Homo sapiens: one gene and its partner. The protein of the gene in region 2 purifies or fractionates together with the protein of the main gene of each other region. This does not show direct contact. Each region holds a gene or a part of one and is shown on either strand. Other genes may lie near its edges. The genes, in order: KCTD21 and LILRB3.

Region 1 (3,809 bases), on a different chromosome or scaffold from region 2:
ACAAAACCAATTATTAAAATAGAAGAAGTTCCTATAGCTATTATCACTTGGGAAATTACACAGTTTTTAGCCCTGGCCAACAGCTGGGGACAAATCTAAAATGTATATTGCTTATTATATCACAGTATCACACAACCCCTCCCCTGAGTGCAAGGCGGTGACTATGCAGACGTGAGACATGCAGTTGCTCTCAGCTCACAAACTAGGCAGTGGTTTCCAAAAAAAATTGTTTTGTCAGCCACAGTATGAAGATACCATGATCCAGTTCATAGACACACAACTGAAACAAAAGTTTCACAACAATATATAATTGGTTACAACCCACTTAACTGTATTGATGTCATGACTTGCCAATAGGTCACAACCTTCATTTTTTTTCCTGTTTATGGAGGTAAAACTTAAGTATGGTAAAATTTACACTTTTTTTTTAATTGAGACAGGGGTCTTACTATGTTTTCCAGGCTGGTCTTGAACTCCTGGGCTCAAGTGACCCTCCTGCCTCGGCCTCTCAAAGTACTGGGATTATAGGCATGAACCACCACAGCTGGCCACAATTCACCCTTTTAGATGTGTATGGTTACATGAATTTTGACAGTCTTTATAAACACATTTGACCACCACCACATCATATTACTTTTGTGCCAACCTAATAGAATATTCCCATCACTCCAAAATATGCCTTGTGTTTCTTTGTAACCAGTCTTTTCCCTCCAACCCAGCCCCAAGAATTCACTTAATCTGATTTCTGTCTTTATAGTTTTGCCTTTGCCAGAACGTTATACAGATAGAGTCATGTACCATGTAACCTTCTGAGGCTGGCTTCTTTCACTTGACGTAATGCTTTTGAAATTCATGTATGTGGTAATGTCTTTTAGTAGTTCCTATATATTGCTGAGTCATATTCTATTGTATGGATGTACTGCAATTTATCTGTTTACAATTAGTTGTTTCTGAGTTTGGGCAATTATGAATAAGCTGCCATAAACATTCACATATGAGTCTTTGCATGGACATATGTCTCCATTTCTCCGGCATAAATACCTAGGAGTAGGGTCATTGGGTCACGTGATAATTGTATGCTGTATTAGTCCATTCTCACACTGCTAATAACAACATACCCCAGACTGGCTAATTTACAAAGGAAAGAGGTTTAATTGACTCACGGTTCCACAGGACTAGGGAGGCCTCAGGAAACTTAAAATAATGGTGGAAGGGGAAGCAAACATGTCTTTCTTCACATGGCAGCAGCAAGGAGAAGTGCCAAGCGAAGGGGGAAACCCCTTATAAAACCATCAGATCTCTTAAGAACTCACTATCACAAGAACAGCATGAGGAAAACCGCCCCAATGATTCAATCATCTCCACCTAGTCCTGCCCTTGACACATGGGGATTATTACAATTCAAGGTGAGATTTGGGTGGGGACACAGAGCCAAACCATACCATATGTCAAACTATTTTCAACAGCGGTTACCATTTGTCAGCAGTGTATGAGGTTTCCATTGTTCTATGTACTCACCTTCAATTGGCATTGTCAGTTTTTATATGAGCCACTAATAGGTATATAGTAGCATATAATTGTGGTTTCAATTTTCATACTCTCATGACTGATGATATTGACCATCTTTTCATGTGATTGTCAGTCATCTGCATATCTTCTTTGCTGGAGTATTTGTTAGATCTTTTGTCTAGTTGTTTTGTTTTTGTTTTTGTTTAAGTAGAGATAGGGTTTCACCATGTCGGCCAGGCTGTTCTTGAACTCCTGGCCTCAAGTGATCTGCCCGCCTCAGCCTCCCAAAGTGCTGGGATTACAGGCATGTGCCACTGCACCCAGCTTTATGTGTTTTTTAATTGGGTTATTTTCTTACTGAGTTTTGAGAGTTCTTTATATATTCTGGTTAACAATCCTTTATCAGATAGGTGTTTTGCAAATATTTTCTCCATCTGTGTCTTATTCTTTCATTTTCTTAACAGTGTCTTTTGAAGAGCAGAAGTTTTTTACGTGGATGAAGTCTAGTTTATTGATGTTTTTAATGGTTTGTCCCTTTTAGGTCCTATCCAAGAAATCTTTGCCTAATCCACAGTTGCAAAGATTTTCTCCTAGAAGTTGTGTAGTTTTAGATTTTATATTTAGGTCTATGATATGTTCTGAGTTTATTTTTCATAAACAGCATAAGAGATGGACCAAGGTTCTTTTTTTCCCCATATGGATGTCCACTGATCTGCATTTTGAGATAGCCAGGGAAGAGGGCCATGTGCAAAGGAGATCGCTGCAGGTGGAATGCTGGGTGCTGCCAGAGGGGGTTGTGCAAGGCACCAGGAAGCCCTGAGAGGAGAGCTGTTAACCTAGTGGAGATCTGGGGACAGTAGTACAGAGGTGATGACTCATAGGCTGGGCCTGAAAGGTAGACAGCAGAGAGGGTAGAGAAGGTAGACAGGGGTGGTCTAGGGACAGCAAAGGCAGGGCAGGTGTCAGCATGAAGGAGACTGACTCAGTGGCGTCTGGCGTGCGTGGAGGGCAGGGTTAGACATGAGAGGGAAAGAGGAAGGTGGTTGGGCAGGGACGGTACTTCAGGAAGGTCAGTCTGCAGACCAGAAAGGAAGGTGGACAGAAGGCAGGGAGCCGAGTGAGGATGTAGGGGTGCAGGGGGCAGGGATGAGGCCTGAGCTCTGGGAGTAGCTATAGGGATGGGTTCAAGGAGATAGTCAAGACAAACTGTAGGGCTGAAGAGTCGGGGCTGCTTCCCTCAGGCAGTTGGGTGGCTCAGAAGAGTTCACAGCAGAGTTAGGGGCAGAGGAAGGCACAGGTGAGGCTTCTGGTACCTGTGTTACTGGTGGAGGGTCTTGACTAGGAATTTTCCAGGTCCTTGGCGTTTTGAACAAAGTAGCAGAGGGGCAGACGTGGTAATCCCCACACTTTGGGAGGCCTGGATGGGCAGATCACTTGAGGTCAGTCCAAGACCGGCCTGGCCAACGTGGTGAAACCCGTCTCTACTAAAAAAAAAAAAAGTAAAAATAAAAAGAGTAGCAGGGGAATGAAATGCAGGAATGAAGCAGTGAAAGCAGGAATTAAAGTGAGAAAGCACTCCTCAGGGTGGGAGTGGGCCGGAGCAAGGAACTCAAAGGCCCAGTTACAAAGTTCTCTGGGCTTTAGGTACCCCATTTGAGGTTCTTATCAGCTACTCCTTATCTGGACGAAGGATTTAGTCTGTGGCTAATTAAAGGCTGAGGTGAATGGGCACCCTATGCAGATAAAGGGATGGTCCCAATCCAAGGCCCCCCTCCCTTTCCACCTGAGACATGGTGGAGTGGGAGGGTTGCAAAGAGGAGCGTTTGATCCTTTGTCACCCAGCTGGGGCGATGGCGTTTTTCCTCTTGGTTCAGCTTTAGGAATTTGGTGTTAATTGGTCTTAGGGTCCCTGCCCCCAGACCCAGGATTTTCCTTCTGATCCAGCTTTGGGAAGTCAACAGAATTGGCCTCAGATTTTTTGCCCCAGACCTTGGTGTTTTCTCTTTTATGAAGTTAGCACAAATTGGCCTTAAGTTCCTTGTCTCCAAACCTTGTTCTCCTGCCTCACTTGCAGAATATCCAAGTGGAGGTGGCCAGGAGGCATCTGGGAACACATAGGGGACTGAGGCTCAGTGGTGTTAGTTCATTACTACCTGACTGCAAACCTCCGCCGACTCATGAAACTCCCCTCGTGTCATGTCATTTTGCCTTTTGTAGCAGGGCCGTGGATTTGTGATGATGGACACTGTGGCCCTGTGGCTAGAAAATAGGGGCTTAGACCAGGCACGGTGGCTCACGCC
Region 2 (4,539 bases):
TGGGCTGGTGAGGGGCGGGGGTCGAGGCAGAGGGAGATGTTGGGGCCCAGCCAGGAGGAGGAGCCGGGCTGATGTGGGGGGCAAGACAGCCCCAGCCTTCACCTCCCTGTCCTGACCCAGGAGGTCCTGAGGACCAGCCCCTTAACCCCCCAGGGTCAGGCCCTCAGAATGGTGAGTGAGGGGCTCTGAGTGGGAGATGGGCGGGGTCCAGGGGAGGCAGGGGTGGGTTCTGTCCTAGGTTCAGGCTCCTCTGGAGGTGGTGATGTGGACAGGCCCCTCCCCTGCCTGGGCCTCAGTTTCTCCAAGTGTAAAGGAGAGAGGCCTGTGGGTGGGAAAGTTCCTTTCAGCTCTGACCCCCAGCTGTGACCTCCTGGGAGAGGAGGCCTCCCAGGGAACCTCCCAGACCCGATTCCACAGGGGCCTGTCCCGTCCCACCTGCAGCAGTGACGGTGACCTGGGGCAGGGGAGGGGAGCAGGGCCGTGGTTCAGGACGGTCAGGCTCTTTCCCTGCAGCTCCGGGTCTCGGCTCTGGTGCAGGAACAAGGGCTGCAGGTCAGACTCCCGGGCTCCCTTCCCAGCTCTGCCGCTTCCTCGCTGGAGGCCTGGGGCAGGCGACTCCCTGCTCTGAGCCTCAGTTTGTGCATCTGTGAAATGGGTTGTACGGGTGGCAATTCCATGTTGCACGACTGCTTGTGAGGGTTGGAGGTCACGAAGGAAAGACCTGGCTCGCGCCTGCACACAGTAGGTGCTCACATCAATGACATCATTCCCACTCCTGACGTCCTCATGTCAAGGTCTGGGAAGATACCTGGAGGTTTTGATTGGGGTCTCGGTGGCCTTCGTCCTGCTGCTCTTCCTCCTCCTCTTCCTCCTCCTCCTCCGTCAGCGTCACAGCAAACACAGGACATCTGGTGAGTAGGGAAGCGGGGGACCCATGGGTCGACCGAGGGTGGGCTCAGGGCACCAGCCAGAGGGAACCCAAACACACAGGGGTGTCAGTTTAGAAAACCGGTTCCAGGGGCACGTAATTTCAATACGCATTTACAAACTTCAGTATTCATGGGAGTTTTTTTCTATCTCATAAAATATTTGGAACATCCATGCAGGAATATTTTTAGTTTTCCTTCTTTCCCTCAAGTTGCATGTGTAGAATGGGAGTTCTAATGTTCCCAGGGCTGAGACTCTGTCCATCTTCACCCAGACCAGAGAAAGACTGATTTCCAGCGTCCTGCAGGGGCTGCGGAGACAGAGCCCAAGGACAGGGGCCTGCTGAGGAGGTAATTCTGCCCCAAAGACCACAGACTCCCACCCACCACAGCCCATACACTGCCCCTCACACTCCCATGTCCTCCTCCAGGTCCAGCCCAGCTGCTGACGTCCAGGAAGAAAACCTCTGTAAGAGGAAGAGAGGGGACAAATGGGGGTGCTGGAGAGACAGGAGTCCCAAAATTTCAGTAGCAACAGGGAGGGGCTGGGAAGGGTCTGGGGCTCCGTGGAAGATGGTCTTGCCCCACACTGTGGGACCTCCCTGCATTCGGTGGCCCCATCTGGGAGCAGGGCAGGGGGCCAGCAGGACTGAGAGGTCTCAGAGAACCAGGAGACGAACCCCTTGCTCTGCCCCAGCAGATGCTGCTGTGAAGGACACACAGTCTGAGGACAGGGTGGAGCTGGACAGTCAGGTGAGATCCCGCCCCGTCCCAGGCACCAAAGGCCTCCTGGTGCCAGATCTAATCCTGCAGGACTTCTCTGTCCTCCTTCCCCCGGCTCTCAGCATCGTCACGGTGGACCCCTCCTTGTCCAGCATGCTGCCTCCCGCCTGCTGTGACCTCACTCTCTTCTGCTGTCCTGGGACCTCGTGGGCCTCCTCCCGGGTCCCCTTCCTGCTCCTCATCCTCTGTTTGGCCGTCTGGTTGTTAGAGCTCTCCCCAGGCCTCAGGAGGATGACGAATAAATGAACCACCTCCGTCCCCTGGGCTCCTCTTCATTCATTCATCCAGCGAGTGTTCCCAGGGAGCTCACTGTGGATGGGGCTCCCCATGGGAGCTGCAGACACAGCAGGGAGCAAAGCCGCCCCCGCCTCCTGAGCTCACCTCACGGTGGGAGACAAAATGCAAATAAATGCATCGTGTCCAGGAGTGCAACGTGCTGTAAGGAACATACACCAGGGAAAGGGCAGAGAGTGTGGGGCAGTGGGGCCAGTCTGAATGGAAGGGGAGGGCTGTCTGCTCAGCTGTCATCTGAGAAGCCTGGACAGAGTGGGGCACATGATCCTCTGATGGACGAGCCCCTGCAGGCAGAGGAAACAGCCGTGCAAAGGCCCCCAGGCAGCAGCGAGCTCTTGCAGGAAGGCCTGTGAGGCTGCAGCCAAATGGGCAAGGTCAGAGTGAGGAGCAGAGGCCAGAACCACAGGGAGGGAGCGGCCAGACCCTCCACGGCCTTAGGGCGTCCCTGAGATTCCATCAGGAAAGGGATGTAATCGGATCACCCCGGGAACAGTGAGGAAAATTGACTCCAGGAGGTCAGGGGGACTCAAGGACACCCCCCACCACTGTCTCTCTCCAGCAGAGCCCACACGATGAAGACCCCCAGGCAGTGACGTATGCCCCGGTGAAACACTCCAGTCCTAGGAGAGAAATGGCCTCTCCTCCCTCCTCACTGTCTGGGGAATTCCTGGACACAAAGGACAGACAGGTGGAAGAGGACAGGCAGATGGACACTGAGGTGAGTCCTTTCCTCTCCAGGCCCCCAGGCCTCCCCCACCCCCACCACGTTCCTTACCTCTCACTCTCCCCCGCTGCAGGCTGCTGCATCTGAAGCCTCCCAGGATGTGACCTACGCCCAGCTGCACAGCTTGACCCTTAGACGGAAGGCAACTGAGCCTCCTCCATCCCAGGAAGGGGAACCTCCAGCTGAGCCCAGCATCTACGCCACTCTGGCCATCCACTAGCCCGGGGGGTACGCAGACCCCACACTCAGCAGAAGGAGACTCAGGACTGCTGAAGGCACGGGAGCTGCCCCCAGTGGACACCAGTGAACCCCAGTCAGCCTGGACCCCTAACACAGACCATGAGGAGACGCTGGGAACTTGTGGGACTCACCTGACTCAAAGATGACTAATATCGTCCCATTTTGGAAATAAAGCAACAGACTTCTCAACAATCAATGAGTTAATAACAAAAAAACAAAAAACAAAAACAGACGTAAAGGCCGGGTGTGGTACTCAGGAGGCTGAGTGGGGAGGATTCCTTGAACACAAGAAGTTAAGGCTGCTGAGGCTGCAGTGAGCTATGACTGTGCCACTGCACTCCAGCCTGTGTGACAGAGCGAGACCTTGTCTCTAAAAAAAAAAACAGTGAATGTTTTAAACTGAATGATAATGTAAATATTATACATCGAACTTATGACATGGGAAAATTAAGAAGCATAAATAGGCCGGGCGCGGTGGCTCACGCCTATAATCTCAGCACTTTGGGAGGCTGATGCGGGCGGATCATGAGGTCAGGAGATCGAGACCATCCTGGCTAACACGGTGAAACCCCGTCTCTACTAAAAATACAAAAAAATTAGCCGGGCGTGGTGGCGAGTGCCTATAGTCCCAGCTACTCAGGAGGCTGAGGCAGGAGAATGGCATGAGCCCGGGAGGCAGAGCTTGCAGTGAGCTGAGATCGCACCACTGCACTCCAGCCTGGGCGACAGAGTGAGATTCCGTCTCGAAAAAAAAAAAAAAAGAAAGAAAAAAAATAAAAAAGAAGCATAACCAGGTGCAGTGGCTCACACCTGTAATCCCAATACTTTGGGAGGGCAAGTGGGGAGGATAGCTTGAGCTCAGGAGTTCGAGTCAGTCAGATCAGCATTGTGAGGCCCCATCTCTACAAAAAATAAAACCAGTCCGGCGTGGTGGCACACACCTGTAGTCCCAGCTACTTGAGAGGCTGAGGTGGGAGGATCACTTGGGTACAGGAGGTCGAGGCTGCAATGAGCCGAGATCGCACCACAGCACTTCAGCCTGGACGAGACCCTGTCTCAAAAAAACAAAACAACTAACAAGCCGGTGAAATTATCTGTTGATTAGTGTTTGCATAATACATTTTTCATCCTTCTGCTTTTTTAATGTGATAAAATATAAACAACAGGCCAGGCACGGGGGTTCATGCCTGTAATCCCAGCACTTTGGGAGGCCAAGGCGGGTGGATCACAAGGTCAGGAGTTCAAGACTAGCCTGGCCAAGATGGTGAAACCCCATCTCTACTAAAAATACAAAAACTGGCCAGGTGTGGTGGCAGGCACCTGTAATCCCAGCTACTAGGGAGGCTGAGGCAGAGAACTGCTTGAACCCAGGAGGCAGTGGTTGCAGTGAACCGAGATCACACCACTGCACTACAGCCTGGGCAACAGAGCAAGACTCTGTCTCAAAAAAAAAAAATTCCAATCTTGTAATCTCTTTTTGATCACTTATATTTAATGTAATCACTGATGACATTACAACCGTATGTCACTTAATGACAGGGATATGTTCTGAGAAAGCCATCATTAAAAAAT

What was found.
Region 1: the proteins of LILRB3 (region 2) and KCTD21 purify together in Homo sapiens (affinity purification with mass spectrometry, with the first as the bait; 2 studies listed by BioGRID). This does not show direct contact.

Annotation. Positions count from the first base shown.
Region 1 is NC_000011.10:78,178,405-78,182,213, reverse strand, and holds part of KCTD21 (BTB/POZ domain-containing protein KCTD21), read left to right. Parts: intron 1-3,809. UniProt on the Homo sapiens protein: Probable substrate-specific adapter of a BCR (BTB-CUL3-RBX1) E3 ubiquitin-protein ligase complex mediating the ubiquitination and subsequent proteasomal degradation of target proteins. Promotes the ubiquitination of HDAC1.
Region 2 is NC_000019.10:54,215,501-54,220,039, reverse strand, and holds the end of LILRB3 (leukocyte immunoglobulin-like receptor subfamily B member 3 isoform 2 precursor), read left to right. Parts: intron 1-120; coding exon of another isoform or gene 121-171; intron 172-435; exon of another isoform or gene 436-794; coding exon 795-911; exon of another isoform or gene 912-1,138; coding exon of another isoform or gene 1,139-1,164; exon of another isoform or gene 1,165-1,173; coding exon of another isoform or gene 1,174-1,201; coding exon 1,202-1,277; intron 1,278-1,357; coding exon 1,358-1,395; coding exon of another isoform or gene 1,396-1,626; coding exon 1,627-1,679; intron 1,680-2,562; coding exon of another isoform or gene 2,563-2,565; coding exon 2,566-2,721; intron 2,722-2,800; coding exon 2,801-2,947; 3' UTR 2,948-3,762; downstream 3,763-4,539.